Homo sapiens: one gene and its partner. The protein of the gene in region 1 purifies or fractionates together with the protein of each later gene. This does not show direct contact. Each region holds a gene or a part of one and is shown on either strand. Other genes may lie near its edges.

Region 1 (7,231 bases):
GTGGAACTCCGGGGAGGAGCTGGCTGGGGCGGAGGTGATGATCCAGGATGCGGGCCAGCGTAGGGGTCTTGGTGGGCATGCTGGGGTCGGATGGAGCGCAGGAGGGAGAGGAGGGGGGACAGGTGGGTACCTGGGCTGGAGGCGCGGCCTGAGGTGGGCAGGTTCAGGGGGCGTGACTTCATTTAGGGGCAGGGCCTGGGGCTAGGCTGAAGCCGGCAGTGAGGACCCCGCTCTCGGGTGGAATTGGAGGGGACCCGCGGTTGGGCGCGGCAGGGCTCACAGGGACACCCCCGTTCTCCTCCCCAGGGAGAAAGTGCTCGTCGTGCACGGCTTCCCGCCCGCCGTGGCAACCCTTCGGGTAAGGAAGGAGACCAGGCGGCGGCAGGCGGGCAAGGGCTTGGGGTCCGCCCCCCTGCCTGGAGCCGCCCTAACTCCTCCGTATCCTGCCGCTGTTGGAGTGGGCCTGGAACCCCCTCCATAGGCGCGCCTCCTACTCCCGCTGCACCCCGACCTCCGCCGGGACCTCTATGCGCCGCGCCGCACGGGCGATGGCCTTCGGGCCTCCCCGGCCCCAGGGCACCGCGCAGGTCCCTTTGCTGGCACCAAGCCCGAGCCTGAGCCGGACCCGGGGCCCAAGAGGCCTGTGCGCCCTGCGAGCCCTTGAGCTCCAGGGGAGGTCCGCCCCAGGCAGGGCGGCTCATCCCCCAGACCACTTCGGATCCAGCTGTTTGTTGAGGAGCCAGGAAACGCCCTGACACTTTTGCGGCCCTGTCCCCGTCTCTAAGATGGGGATGATAGTATTTCTGGCCATTCCTGAGCACAGCAGGACCTGCCTTTTCCCTTTGACTGGAAGGTTCTTCTCTACACCTATCTTGATAACCTGCCACCTCCACAGGGAGGTCTTCTCTATCTCCCGATTTAAAATTGCAGCTCTGAGAAGCCGGGCATGGTGGCATATGCCTGTAGTCCCAGCTACGGGGGGAGGCTGAGGTGGGAGGATCGCTTGGTCCCAGGAGTTGGAGGCTGCAGTGAGCTCTGATCGCTCCACTGCACTATAGCCTGGGCAAAAGAGCAAGAAACTGTCTCTAAAAATATAAAATAAAATTGCACCTCTTGTGTACTTCCCCGTCTGCTTCTTTACCTGAATACTTACTATCTCACCGGCTAGGTGCTTTATGACTCTCGTTAGTCTCTCCCACCCCAACCTTTGCACTACATTGCCCGAGGGCAGCTCTTGTCACTGCTGTAGAACAAAGTCCTGCACAGAGACGATAGCCAAGAAATAGTTAATAAAATAATGGAAAACGGGTGCCTTCTACTGAGCACCCGCTAATAGTGAGTGAGTAGAGGACTTGCCCTGGGGACATTCAGTGACCTGCTGGGTGTTGCTGAGCTGTGAGGAAGTTCAGGTCTGGCTGCAGTGGTGAGGCTGTGACTCAATCAATCACTGCTGATGCTCCCAGGACCTGCACCAGCTTAGTCCCAGGGGCAAGGATTTTAAACCCCCACCTCCATTTCCTCATCTGTAAGATGCAAATAACAGTCACCTCTGCCTCACGGGATGGAGCTGTGTAATGCCCGGAACAGTGCCTGCTGCATAGAGGGGTTGCTGCCAGCTGCCTCTCCCTCCTTGTCTCTTACCTGCCTGCTGCCTGGGACAGGATGAAGCGGGGCCCTTGTGTTGCCCCAACCCTGGCTGTTGGCTAAGAGCCCACGTGATCTGCCTGTGAGAGGAGTTCCTTCCGGAAGAACCAGGGCAGCTTCTGCCCCTAGAGGGCCAATGCCCTAGCTGAGTGCAGTCCCCCGGCCCCAGCCTGGTCCAGCTTTGGGAAGAGGGTGCCCAGTTGTGCAATCCAGGCCGGGGCAGCCGTGTCCTGATCTTGGTATTCAGGGCTGAGCCTGGAGGGGGCTTGTGATGCCTGACTCTGTCTCTCTCTCTGGCCCCATGCCTTGGTAGCTGTGAGGCGTCACTGCTTTGGGTGACCTGATCTGGCTGTGATGGATGAGCACGGGGGAAATAGTGGAAGACTCGGAATTAGAAGACGTGAGTGGGCTTTGGCCCCAGCCTCCCTACCCCACTCCCTGTCCTGGGCTGCCTGTGACCAACCTTGTTTCTGCAGGCACACTGGATAGCCCTGCTGGAGCTCAGTGTCCCTAATCCCCTCCAGATACTGGTGGCCTAGGGGAGGTCATCAAAGACCGGTGGGACATCGACCTCAGCCCGTTTCCACGCTTTTTTTTGTTTTGTTTTGTTTTTTTGAGACCGAGTTTCACTCTTGTTGCCCAGGCTGGAGTGCAATGGCGTGATCTTGGCTCACCGCAACCTCCGCCTCCCGGGTTCAAGCGATTCTCCTGCCTCAGCCTCCCAAGTAGCTGGGATTACAGGCGTGTGCCACCAGGCTTGACTAATTTTCTATTTTTAGTAGAGACAAGGTTTCTCCATGTTGGTCAGGCTGGTCTCAAACTCCCGACTTCAGGTGGTCTGCCTGCCTCGGCCTCCCAAAGTGCTGGGATTACAGGAGTGAGCCACCGTGCCAGGCCTTCTCCAGGCTCTTGGCACCTTAGCCAGAAACAATTTAAGGACAAGTGCAAAAGTCATGAACGTAGGCAGATTTCCTGCAGAGTAAAGGGACTCACTGAAGAAGAGGAACGTGGGGGTCCTCAAGAGAGTGTCTCATGCCCTACAAGGTGTGGGGCTGACCTTTATGGGCTTCTTCAACTAAAGAGGGGTATATTCATGAAGATTCCAGGAAAAGGTAAAGATTTCTCAAGACCGTGGTGCCACAATTTACACCCAAATACAGGTGTTCCTGGAGCCGTCTTGGCACTGGTGGGTGTACGGTTTCATATGTTACTGATTGTACAGTGAGATCCTAGGTGAAACCTACATCAAATACAGCGCCATGTTGCTTCTGGTTGGTCGCAGCCAGCTTGGTCCTCATCCTATTTTTCAGGGACTTATTGGCCCTTGGCACATGCAGCTATTTCAAGTTTCCTTCTTCTGGTCATGTGAAACTGCTGCCTGGGATTTTCTGTTGTCTTGCTAGCACTCTATTAATCTCACATTCTCGCCTCTTTTCTGTGCCACCCCCTGCTGGTCCGGCTGGTTTTCACTAGAGTGCAATACAAAGTCTCAGTCAAGAGGGCCTCCTGAAGGTTGCTGAGGGCAGGGGTGGAGCTAGTAGCCGGAGGACCTGCCAGTCATGGGGATTCCTCAGGGGCACAGAGGAGGGAGGAGGGGCCTGTGGCCCTAGCAGGGGAGCAGCCTCTCCTCTGCCTGGAAATCCCATGCCTCAGTTTTCCCCGCTTGCCTCTGAGCTCACGCAACCCTGGGAAGGCTTGGGAGACTCACCTTTACTCAGATGGTTGTTTACCTGTCTCGTGCCCAGCTTGACCCTGGACTTTAAATAGTGAGGACAAAGAACGAGGAGGGTGGGGGGATGCACTCCTTCCACGGGGCCCTGTGGCTTCCAAGCCTCAACCTCCTCTGGCCTCTGTCTGTGGAGCCTCCTTCAAACCCATGGAAAGAAAAGTACCTGCCAGGGGCTGTGGTTCTTCTAGGATCTTCTATCGATGTTCTGTGAGGTCCCCAGGGAGCCATGAAGCTGGGGCTGGCTCCCAGGGCAATGGGACTGCAGTGTCCTTGTTCTTTCTTGTTCTATGGATCCATGCTCTGCTCCACCCCTGCCCCTTCACTCTGCCCACACGCATCACTCCAGACTGGCCTTGTGGTCAGAGCCTGGAGTGCATGGGCTGCTGGAGGCCTGTGGGTTGCACTGGGCCAGGACCCCTGGCACCTTCAAGACTGGCCTGGAGCCAGCAGGTAGGTGACCTTTCCAGGGCCTGCCTATCCCATCTTTCTCCTCCAATCCCTCCCCTCTCTTGCCTGGGTCAATTAGAGAAAGCTTGTCTTTTGGAGTTCAGGGGCAGGTCAGGAGCCCAGTGACAGCTCAAAAAAAAAAACCCACAAAAACAAACCCACCATTGGGCCCTTTCCCCTTTCATTCTTCTGTTTTCTACACACCAAACCCAGTCGTGGCTTTGGAGATCACTTTAAGCTTGTCTCCAGCTGGCAAACTAAGGAGGGTAATAGAGAAGCTCCCCCACCCCCAACCCTACCCCTTCCTTCCGGAAGCAAATCTAAGTCCAGCCCCGGCTCCAGATCCCTCCCACACTGACCTAAGAAACCCTCAGCACAGACAACACCCCTGCATTCCCCACACAACACCCACACTCAGCCACTGCGGGCGAGGAGGGCACAAGGCCAGGTTCCCAAGAGCTCAGGTGAGTGACACACCGGAATGGCCCAGGACGCCCTCACCCTGCTCAGCTTGTGGCTCCAACATTCCAGAAGCCGAGGCCTCTGCTATCCCTGCCCTCTCCCCATGGATATCCCATTTCAGACAACCCCGGCCGGCCTGAATCCCCCTCCCTTCCTTTTTTTTTTTTCCGGGGAGGCCAGGTCTTGCTGTCACCGAGGCTGGAGTGCTGTGGGATCCTGGCCACTGCAGCCTTGAATTCCTGGGCTCAAGTGATTCTCCTGCCTCAGTAGCTAGGACTACAGACCCTCACCATCCTGCCTGGATAGTTTTAAAAAATATTTTTAAAAGATTTTTAGAGATGGGGTCTTCCAATGCTGCCCAGATTGGTCTCCAAATTCTGGCCTCAGCCTCCCTAGGGTCTGGGATTACAGGTGGGAGCCACCCTGCCCAGGATCCTCCTTTTGCTGAGTCATCACAGTTTTGCTCATTCCCACATCAGGCTCTGGCCCCCAATACCAGCTCAGTTGCTCAATGGGCTGTTTGTCCTGGAGCCCAGATGGACTGTGGCCGGGCAAGTGGATCACAGGCCTGGCCAGCCTAGGAGTTGCCACATGTGAGGGGCCGAGGGGCTCAAGGAGGGGAACATCGGGGAGAGGAGCCTACTGGGTGGAGGCTGGGGGTCCCAGCAGGAAATGGTGAGACAAAGGGCGCTGGCTGGCAGGAAGACAGCACAGGAAGGTCCTAGAGGTTCCTCAGTGCAGCTGGACTCTCCTGGAGACCTTCACACACCCTGACATCTGGGCCCCGCGCCACGAGGGTGCTTTCACTGGTCTGCACCATGGCCCAGGCCCTGGGATTTTGAACAGCTCCGCAGGTGAATGAAAGGTGAGGCCAGGCTGGGGAACCACCACATTAGAGCCCGACCTGGTTTTCAGCCCCAGCCCCGCCACTGACTGGCCTTGTGAGTGCGGGCAAGTCACTCAGCCTCCCTAGGCCTCAGTGACTTCCCTGAAAGCAAGAATTCCACTTTCTTGCTGTTGTGATGGTGGTAAGGGAACGGGCCTGGCTCTGGCCCCTGACGCAGGAACATGGAGCTGATCCAGGACATCTCTCGCCCGCCACTGGAGTACGTGAAGGGGGTCCCGCTCATCAAGTACTTTGCAGAGGCACTGGGGCCCCTGCAGAGCTTCCAGGCCCGGCCTGATGACCTGCTCATCAGCACCTACCCCAAGTCCGGTAGGTGAGGAGGGCCACCCACCCTCTCCCAGGTGGCAGTCCCCACCTTGGCCAGCGAGGTCATGCTCACCTCAGCCTGCTCACCTCCCATCTCCCTCCCTCTCCAGGCACCACCTGGGTGAGCCAGATTCTGGACATGATCTACCAGGGCGGTGACCTGGAAAAGTGTCACCGAGCTCCCATCTTCATGCGGGTGCCCTTCCTTGAGTTCAAAGTCCCAGGGATTCCCTCAGGTGTGTGTGTCCTGGGTGCAAGGGGAGTGGAGGAAGACAGGGCTGGGGCTTCAGCTCACCAGACCTTCCCTGACCCACTGCTCAGGGATGGAGACTCTGAAAAACACACCAGCCCCACGACTCCTGAAGACACACCTGCCCCTGGCTCTGCTCCCCCAGACTCTGTTGGATCAGAAGGTCAAGGTGAGACTGGGCACAGTGGTTCACACCCGCAATCTCAGTACTTTGGGAGGCTGAGGTGGGAAGATCCCTTGAAGCCAGAAGTTCCAGATAAGTCTCTTCCAAAAAAAAAACTTAGCTGTGCATAGTGGTGTGTGCCTGTAATACCAGCTACTCAGGAGGCTGAGGTGGGAGGATCATCTGAGCCTAGGAGTTTAAGGCTACAGTGAGCTATGATCACACCAGTGCACTCCAGGCTGGGTGACAGAGAAACACTGTCTCAAAAAACGATGAATAGAAAGAGTGTCCCACCAGTGCGGTGGCTCACACCTGTAATTCCAGCACTTGAAGAGGCTGAGGCAGGTGGATCACCTGAGACTAGGAGTTTGAGATCAGCCTGGCCAACATGGCAAAACCCCATCTCTACTAAAAATACAAAAAAATTAGCCGGGCATGGTGGCAGGCATCTGTAATCCCAGCTACTTGGGAGGCTGAAGCAGGAGAATTGCTTGAAGCTGGGAGGCAGAGGTTGTAGTCAGCCGAGACCTCACCATTGCACTGCAGCCTGGGAAACAAGAGCAAAACTCTGTCTCAAAAAAAAAAAAAAAAAAAAAAAAAAAGCGGCAGGTGGCAGGGGGCTGGGCCTGTTGTGGCTCACGCCTGTAATACCAGCACTTTCGGAGGTCGAGGTGGGCAGATCACCCAAGGTTAGGAGTTTGAGATCAGCCTGGCCAACATGGAGAAACCCCGTCTCTACTAAAAATACAAAAATTAGCCAGGCGTTGGGGCAGGCGCCAGTAATCCCAGCTACTCGGGAGGCTGAGGCAGGAGAATAGCTTGCACCTGGGAGGCGGTGGTTGCAGTGAGCCGAGATTGTGCCACTGCACTCCAGCCTGGGAGACACAACGAGACATTGTTTCAAACAAAACAAATAAATATTTTAAAAGGTTTGCCACCTGGGTGGCTCACCGCTGTAATGCCAGCATTTTGGGAGGCCAAGATGGGTGGACCGCTTGAGCTCAGGAGTTCCAGACCAGCCCAGGAAACATGGGGAGACTCCATCTCTATAAAAGATGCAAATAATCAGCAGGGCATGGTGGCATAGCGCTATAGTCCCAGCTACTCAAAAGTCTAAGGTTGGAGGATTGCTTGAGCCTGGGAGGTCAACGTTGCAGTGAGCTATTCTCACTCCAGTGCACTCCAACCTGGGCAACAGGAAAAAAGAAAGCCCAAGGTCTTTTTTCTCTTTTCTCTTTTTTTTGAGACCTAGAGTCCCCCCCCCCAAAAAAAAAAAAAAACCACAACAAAAAGAAAAAAGCAAAGGTCCAGGTGTGGGGCATG
Region 2 (6,545 bases), on another chromosome or scaffold:
CCCGGCCCAGGATGCCCGTGACTGTGTTAAGGGGCAGAAGGGGTGGGAGTGCTCTTGTGGCCCACCTGCTCTCCCTATGCGTGTCACCATCATGTCATCCTTATTCCACCTGCCTGCCTTGATAGCCCACAGCACAGGATCAGCCACGGCAGACCATGGGGCTCAGGCTGGCTCCCAGGGCCACGCAGTTTGTACTTGGATGACATGAAGTCAAATTGCAGGCTGCGGGACCTCCCACTTCCAGGACCTCCACAACAGGGCCACAGCAGGTGGCCTTTGCCCAGCAGGAAGGGCCCCCCACCCCACATCTTAGCCTGCTAGGGCTGCCACAGCGAACGACCACAAACTGGGTACTTGAACAACAGATGTGTGTTCTCAGTTCTGGAGGCAGGAAGGCTGAGACCAAGGTGCTGCAGGACCATGGGAGGTTCTGGGGGCTTATTCTTCCCTCCTTCAGTTCCTAGGGGCTCCAGCCACCCAGGGCTCCTTGGCTCCTGCCCGTATCCTCTAGTCTCAGCCTCTGTCTCTGTCTGTGCTTCCTCCTCTTCTGCCCCATATAAGGACATTGTCACTCACTACAGGGCTCACTCTAATCCAGAATGAGCTCCTATCGGGACCTTTCACTTAATTACATCTTCAAAGACTCCCCTTCCCCAATACGGTCACATTCTCACGTATCTTTTGGGGATCACCATGAAACCTGCCACCCTGATCATCAGCTCGCTTCCCTGAGAGAGGGCACACTCTCTCCGCCCCCACCCCACCCTGACCTCAGCCTCCTTCCTTGCTGCTGCCCAGTTAGGAGGCGTCCTCCTTGTCTGCAAGCTCTTGGGGCATGTAAGCAAGGAAGGGAAGAGGAGATGAATCCATGCTCCTTCGCCCAGGACCAGCTCCCTGCCTGGCAGGGTCCACGGGTCCCAGAACCGTGCCACTTCCCTGAGCACCTGTTCTGTGCTGAGCTGTGTGTCAGGCACCCTGGACAGGCTGACAGAATGAAGAAAACACAGTGCAGCCACTTTATAGGGAGTGCTGGAGCCCACTGTGCATTCCTCCTGGGGAACGAGATCAAGACACCACCTCCTGGGGTGTGTGGTCTTGCAGCCACTGGAGGAGAGGGACCTCGGGCCTGCCTGTGCCCCAAAGCTCACCTGACCCCTGACCTGCGGCACTTTAGGGCCTGTAGGGCCCCTTCCACGCCCTCGCCTCTACGGTGTCAGACTCTCACCTGGACAGGAGTCCCTGACTCACTAGAGAGCTCCTCCCCTTCTAGGTGGGCTGTGGCAGGAGGCCCTCCCAGAGGCCCCTCCATTGGGGTGCAGACCCCTTGAGTCATAGCTCTAGCCACCACACCCGTCTTTGCCAGGTTCCTCTTCCGGAGACCAGGAACTGGTCACACATCTGTGTCCCCAGTGTCCAGCCTGGCAGGGAGTGGGTGGCAGCCTTGAAGAGTGAAGGAGGGAAGAAATGAATGAATCAGCGAGTGGGTGGGGTAGGCCGGCTGGGCCGTGCAGGCCAGCCCAGCCCCCGACAGTCTCGTGTCCCTTACAGATGTGCTGGTGGACGGACAGCCATGTGACCGCGAGGCTGTGGCGGCCTGCCAGGTGGGCGACCCCGTGCGCCTGGAGGTGCGGCTGACCAACCGGAGCCCGCGCAGCGTAGGGCCCTTCGCCCTCACTGTGGTCCCCTTCCAGGACCACCAGAACGGCGTGCACAACTACGACCTGCACGACACCGTCTCCTTCGTGGGCTCCAGCACCTTCTACCTCGACGCGGTGCGTGGTGGTGTGCAAGGCGGTCTGGGAGCCTCTGGCCATGTGGTCATCATCCCCCCTTCCCTGGGTGGTGGGCTTTGGGGTCAGCATATGTCCAGCAGACGATAGCAGCAGGGGTTCTGTGGTCACGTGTGCACACTGAGTCTGAGTCTGCCCCATTCACTGCAGGAACTTAGACAAGCTCACCTGTCTCTCAGTCCTGGACAGTGAGGCCCTCAGGGTTGGTGAAGCAGGAAAATGTGCAGGGAATGGGAGCTGTGCCCAGGACAGGGGGCTGCTCCATGATTGGACCCTGCTGTGGCATCACTGTGATGTCACTGTCACCCATCCCGTGCCTGCCGCTCCTTCCACGGAAAGGCTCCAGCCCTACGCCCTCAGCCCCCACCTCCCACCTCCTACCTCTCAAGCTGCCTCTCAGCACCTCACTGTCAGGCCCCAGCACAGGCTAACATTCCATTCCCCTCTGCCCCAACCTCTCCCTCACTCCCTCCCACACTCCTGACCCTCCCACACTCCTGACCCCCTGAGCCCCCAAACAATTCAGGAATGGGAATATTGGCAGCTCCTTTCCAAGATGAAAACTGGCTCGGAGAGGCGCAGTGACCTGCTGGAGGGGGCACTGGAGCCAGGCCTGGGCGGCCCTCGCTTCCCCCATAACACCTATGTCCAGGCAGATTCCCAGGATTCCTGGTGGCTTTGGGTGGCCCCTGCTGCTGACCAGACTGATGTGTCTTTCTCCTCCCTGCTCAGGTGCAGCCGTCCGGCCAGTCGGCCTGCCTCGGGGCCCTCCTCTTCCTCTACACGGGAGACTTCTTCCTCCACATCCGGTTCCACGAGGACAGCACCAGCAAGGAGCTGCCACCCTCTTGGTTCTGCCTGCCCAGTGTGCACGTGTGTGCCCTGGAGGCGCAGGCCTGAGCCCGCCTACTTCCGTCCCTCTTTCTGCAGGGCCAGAGGTGACCCTGCCTGGCCTCCCACACCCCCTGCAATGAGCAAGGCCTTCACTGCAGCCCCATCTCCTCCTCCTCCCCCAGACCCCTCCCAGCCCTCTCCTCCTGTTCCTCCTGTAGCATCTTTGCTGGGCTACGCAGAAGCCCCGGACATGGCAGCCCCACCCCATGCCACGCCCCTTCCTACACTGTTCCCTGGACCATACACAGGCTGAAGCAGAGGAAATCCCAAAGCGGGTGCCCATCCAGCCCAGGTCCCAGGATCCCTGCACCCATTTCTGTGACCTGGGGCCCCAGCCGTGCTGTGCTGCTCATCCCAGCAGAGGGACCTCCCTCGTCCAGCGACTTCCCTTTGGCCATAGAAAGAAATGGTGAGCATGAGACTGGGCACAGCCTGAGGGCGTGGGCAGCTTCCCACCCTCCCTGGGCCTTGGAATCCCCCAAGGCTGGTTTTCTTCCTGGAGACCCCCATGGGCAACTTGGCAGGAGAGATGGTGCCGTAGGAGGTCGTGGATGGTTGATGCCAAGAGAGGCCCTCCACCCGTGGTGGGCAAATGTCCAGGCCTGGGCTGGCAGCCCAGGGCTGTTTCTGGGTGCTCCCTGGCCCCAGGGTGGCGTCTGGTTACCATGGCTGTGTGTGTCCATGTCTGCAAGCAGTTCTTCAATAAATGGCCTGCCTCCCCCTCCCTGCCTCCCTGCATCTGCTAGCCCAGTGCAGTCCGGGGCCCCCACCCAGCCCGTCAGCCCCCACCTCAGGTGGCTGGCTTCCCAGCAGAAGCCGGACCCAGGAAGGGACGGGTTCTGAGTTAGAGATCTCACATAAGCAAACGCTGAGACAGGAATCTGGTCACCAGCAGCTTGTCTGGGAGGTGGAAGGAGGCCTGCAGGGGAGGGAGATCACCAGTGAAGGAGTGTGACTGGGCCCGAGCTGCCGCCACAGTGGGCAGCTGGCCCTGCGTTCCTCAGGGAGGACCGGAGAGAGAAAGCACACGGCTCACATCTCCCTTGAGGGCCAGAGCTGGGGTGTGTCTACACTACCCACAAGAGTCCTGTTCTGGGGGCAGGCTTCTGGCTGTGTTGACCCTTAGCTCCCCAGGTCCCAGGGAGGATAAACAGCCCTTGGTCCCCAGCAGATACCAGGCTCGTCAGGTGCCCGTTGGGCACTGAAACTCCCATGGAGTATTGGGGGACAGAGAGCGGGGCTTCCTAAAGGCCAGTTGGCCAAACAGGCAGAGCCAGGAAGTGGCTGCCCTGGCCTCCCATGGGGCAGAGTCATGTTGGCATCAGGAGGCCTGCGGGGCTGAGGGAACTTCCTGAGGACCTGAAGTCCCAGGCCCAAACCTCCCTCGCTGGGAGCAAGGTCACCCTGTGGCCTCCGGCCTAAGGAACAAATTTTTTGTTCCATCTGTGGCCTCCTGTTGTCGCTCAGTGAATGATGGGAGCACACTGTGATGTGGTGTGGGCTGGGGGCATGTGGGGGCGGGTGTCCAGTGGCCCTCAGTTCCTGGAGCTCATTCAGCATCTGCTCGAGGCTCCCCAGGGAAGGCAGCCCCAGAAGGTCTGGCTGCAGTAGGGGGTGGAGACCCCAGGGCGGTCTCTTCAGCCCTTCCGTTCAGGATGCCTCAGCGTAGTTGAGGGCCTGGCCACCTGGGCTGTTTCTGAATGGAACAAACAGCATCCATGTGTGTCAACCTCAACAGAGCCCAAAAATACGCCATTGAATGAAACAACACATTGCAGGATGATGGGCTCAGCCCAACCTCACTTGTGTAGACAATGTCCCCCCAAATTATAAATTTTCTATGCCTCAGAACGTGTCTATAACAACATGTTTAAAAGGTAGAAAGGATACACATCCCCTGTAGAAGAGTGACCTGAACTGGAGTTGCATTTGACATCTGATGTCAGCATGAGGGTGCTGGTCACCGGGGACTTGAGTACGTACTTTCCTTTCAAAAGCACAATAGATCAAGATACAGGTACACACATAGCTACAGATATAGATCCAGCCACAGATCCAGATTAGATATAGATGCATATAGAAGCCTAGAAAAGCCAATATGGAAAACTCTGGCAGTGTTTGATTCTGAGTGGCAAGCATATTGGTGACTGTAATTATTTCTTGCAGTTTTCTATATTTTTTAGTTTCCCAAACTGCAAAAAATACCCACAACAGTTACCAGAGAAAATGCTGGATGCCACAAGAAGGAAGAACCTCAAGGGGCAGGAGGCAAAGTTGTCTTCTTGGAGGAGGGGGTGTTAGAAATAACCCAGGCCTCCTGGAAAATGACCCAAATACAGCCTGGCTCTGCCAGCCCCAGGCCCTTCCCCACCCCCAGGGCACCCTTTCTGTCCCAGTAGAGAAGGTGACCTGGAGTCAGGCCTTGTGTGTGCTCCAAGCGTTTGGAGCTTTACCGTGGGATGTGGGGAGCCAGGGGTGTTGTTTGCTGGCATTTCTGTGGCTGGGTCTTTCTGGCTGTGGAGCTGTGTTTGTGGGCAGTGGCTGAGATGGAGGACCTGGGGCAGGTGTCTCAGTGACAGCGCAGTATCCTCCAGCCTCTTCCAGGGCCCCACGCTACTGGCTACCTGGCAATACAGTCCAGCAGTTGCTGCTTCTCTAGGCCCCTGGTGCATTCAGAAACCTCCTGAAGGCCAGCGGAGGGTAAGCCAGGAACAGATCATGTCCATTGCACTTCACTAGCTGAGCGAGTTGGTTCTGCCCTTCTGATCCTTGGTCCCTCAGGGCCAGGACAGGCCCGGTGACCCCATAATCATGCAGCCGTCATGCTCCGTCATCTGAAATTCACAAGGAAGGCAAGGATTCAAAGGAAGATGTCTGAGATGCTGAACTCCAGCTCAGCCACTTGTCAACTCCTTGACCTTGGACAAGTTACTTAAATTAAGCCTTGATTTTTTTTCATCTGAATAAATAGAGATAAAAATACTTATTTCATGGACACTTTCATATCAGTTTATTTGATTTAACCTCCTAGATTTTTTTTTAGCACATGATAGCAACTTCTTAATAAATACTGGGTCCCTTCTCCTAGCCTTCCCATTGCTGTTCTTTTTAATTCCATCCACATGTCCTGTGCCTGAAATATCCTGTGCCATGTGCCTGAAATTCCATTCTTCTCCTGGAACCCTTAACAGGCCACATTGCTATGCTCCGTTAGTCCCCTGCATGGCTTAATGTATTAGGTAACATGAAGCATGTAAGGAAGAACTTTCTAACACAGGTGCTGAAATGGGACAGGAAATGCTGATGGAGTGAGCTCTTTGTCAATAGAAGTATTCAAGCAAAGTCCGGACCTGTAGATGGTTTCAAAACATGTAAGCATCATTTGGGGCTTCTGAGCCTACCAGCCAAGAAATTGTCAATGATGACTTGTTAAGAGGTATTTCTGATCCCAGTAAGCAGGGAAGAGAGAGAGATGTATGTGACCACATGGCTCTTGGGGCCTCAAGCAATGTCTTAAGACACAATAAATTTTGATCAAAAAAGGCTTTCAACATGAAGGGCTAGAGATCTAGACTAAGGGTCTAGGCTAAGCCTCTTACTGAAAACACATTTGTAAGTGCATCCATGACCCGGCAGGAGAGTCAGAAATATTCACCCCAGTACCTGTGTGTAGGCAAAGTCCTGGGAGGTGAGCTGTGCACTGATGCCAACTTCCACTTTGAGGGGTTTTGCCAAAGCTGGAGTATCAATGTCTTCAGCCTTCCAAAACTGGAGGAAAGATGACAAAGCTCAGGGCCCACTGGCTGGGGAATCGAATAGATGACTGCTCCGCATCAATTTGAGAGCCTAAAGATTACACCT

Evidence for each region. The genes of interacting proteins can lie anywhere in the genome.
Region 2: the proteins of SULT1A2 (region 1) and TRAPPC9 purify together in Homo sapiens (affinity purification with mass spectrometry; 3 studies listed by BioGRID and IntAct, with this or other methods). This does not show direct contact.

What each region holds. Positions count from the first base shown.
Region 1 is NC_000016.10:28,594,050-28,601,280, reverse strand, and holds the start of SULT1A2 (sulfotransferase 1A2), read left to right. Parts: upstream 1-4,230; 5' UTR 4,231-4,284; exon of another isoform or gene 4,285-5,147; intron 5,148-5,315; exon of another isoform or gene 5,316-5,346; 5' UTR 5,347-5,350; coding exon 5,351-5,498; intron 5,499-5,605; coding exon 5,606-5,731; coding exon of another isoform or gene 5,732-5,816; coding exon 5,817-5,914; intron 5,915-7,231. UniProt on the Homo sapiens protein: Sulfotransferase that utilizes 3'-phospho-5'-adenylyl sulfate (PAPS) as sulfonate donor to catalyze the sulfate conjugation of catecholamines, phenolic drugs and neurotransmitters. Is also responsible for the sulfonation and activation of minoxidil.
Region 2 is NC_000008.11:139,727,206-139,733,750, reverse strand, and holds the end of TRAPPC9 (trafficking protein particle complex subunit 9), read left to right. Parts: intron 1-1,548; coding exon 1,549-1,772; intron 1,773-2,522; coding exon 2,523-2,690; 3' UTR 2,691-6,026; downstream 6,027-6,545. UniProt on the Homo sapiens protein: Functions as an activator of NF-kappa-B through increased phosphorylation of the IKK complex. May function in neuronal cells differentiation. May play a role in vesicular transport from endoplasmic reticulum to Golgi.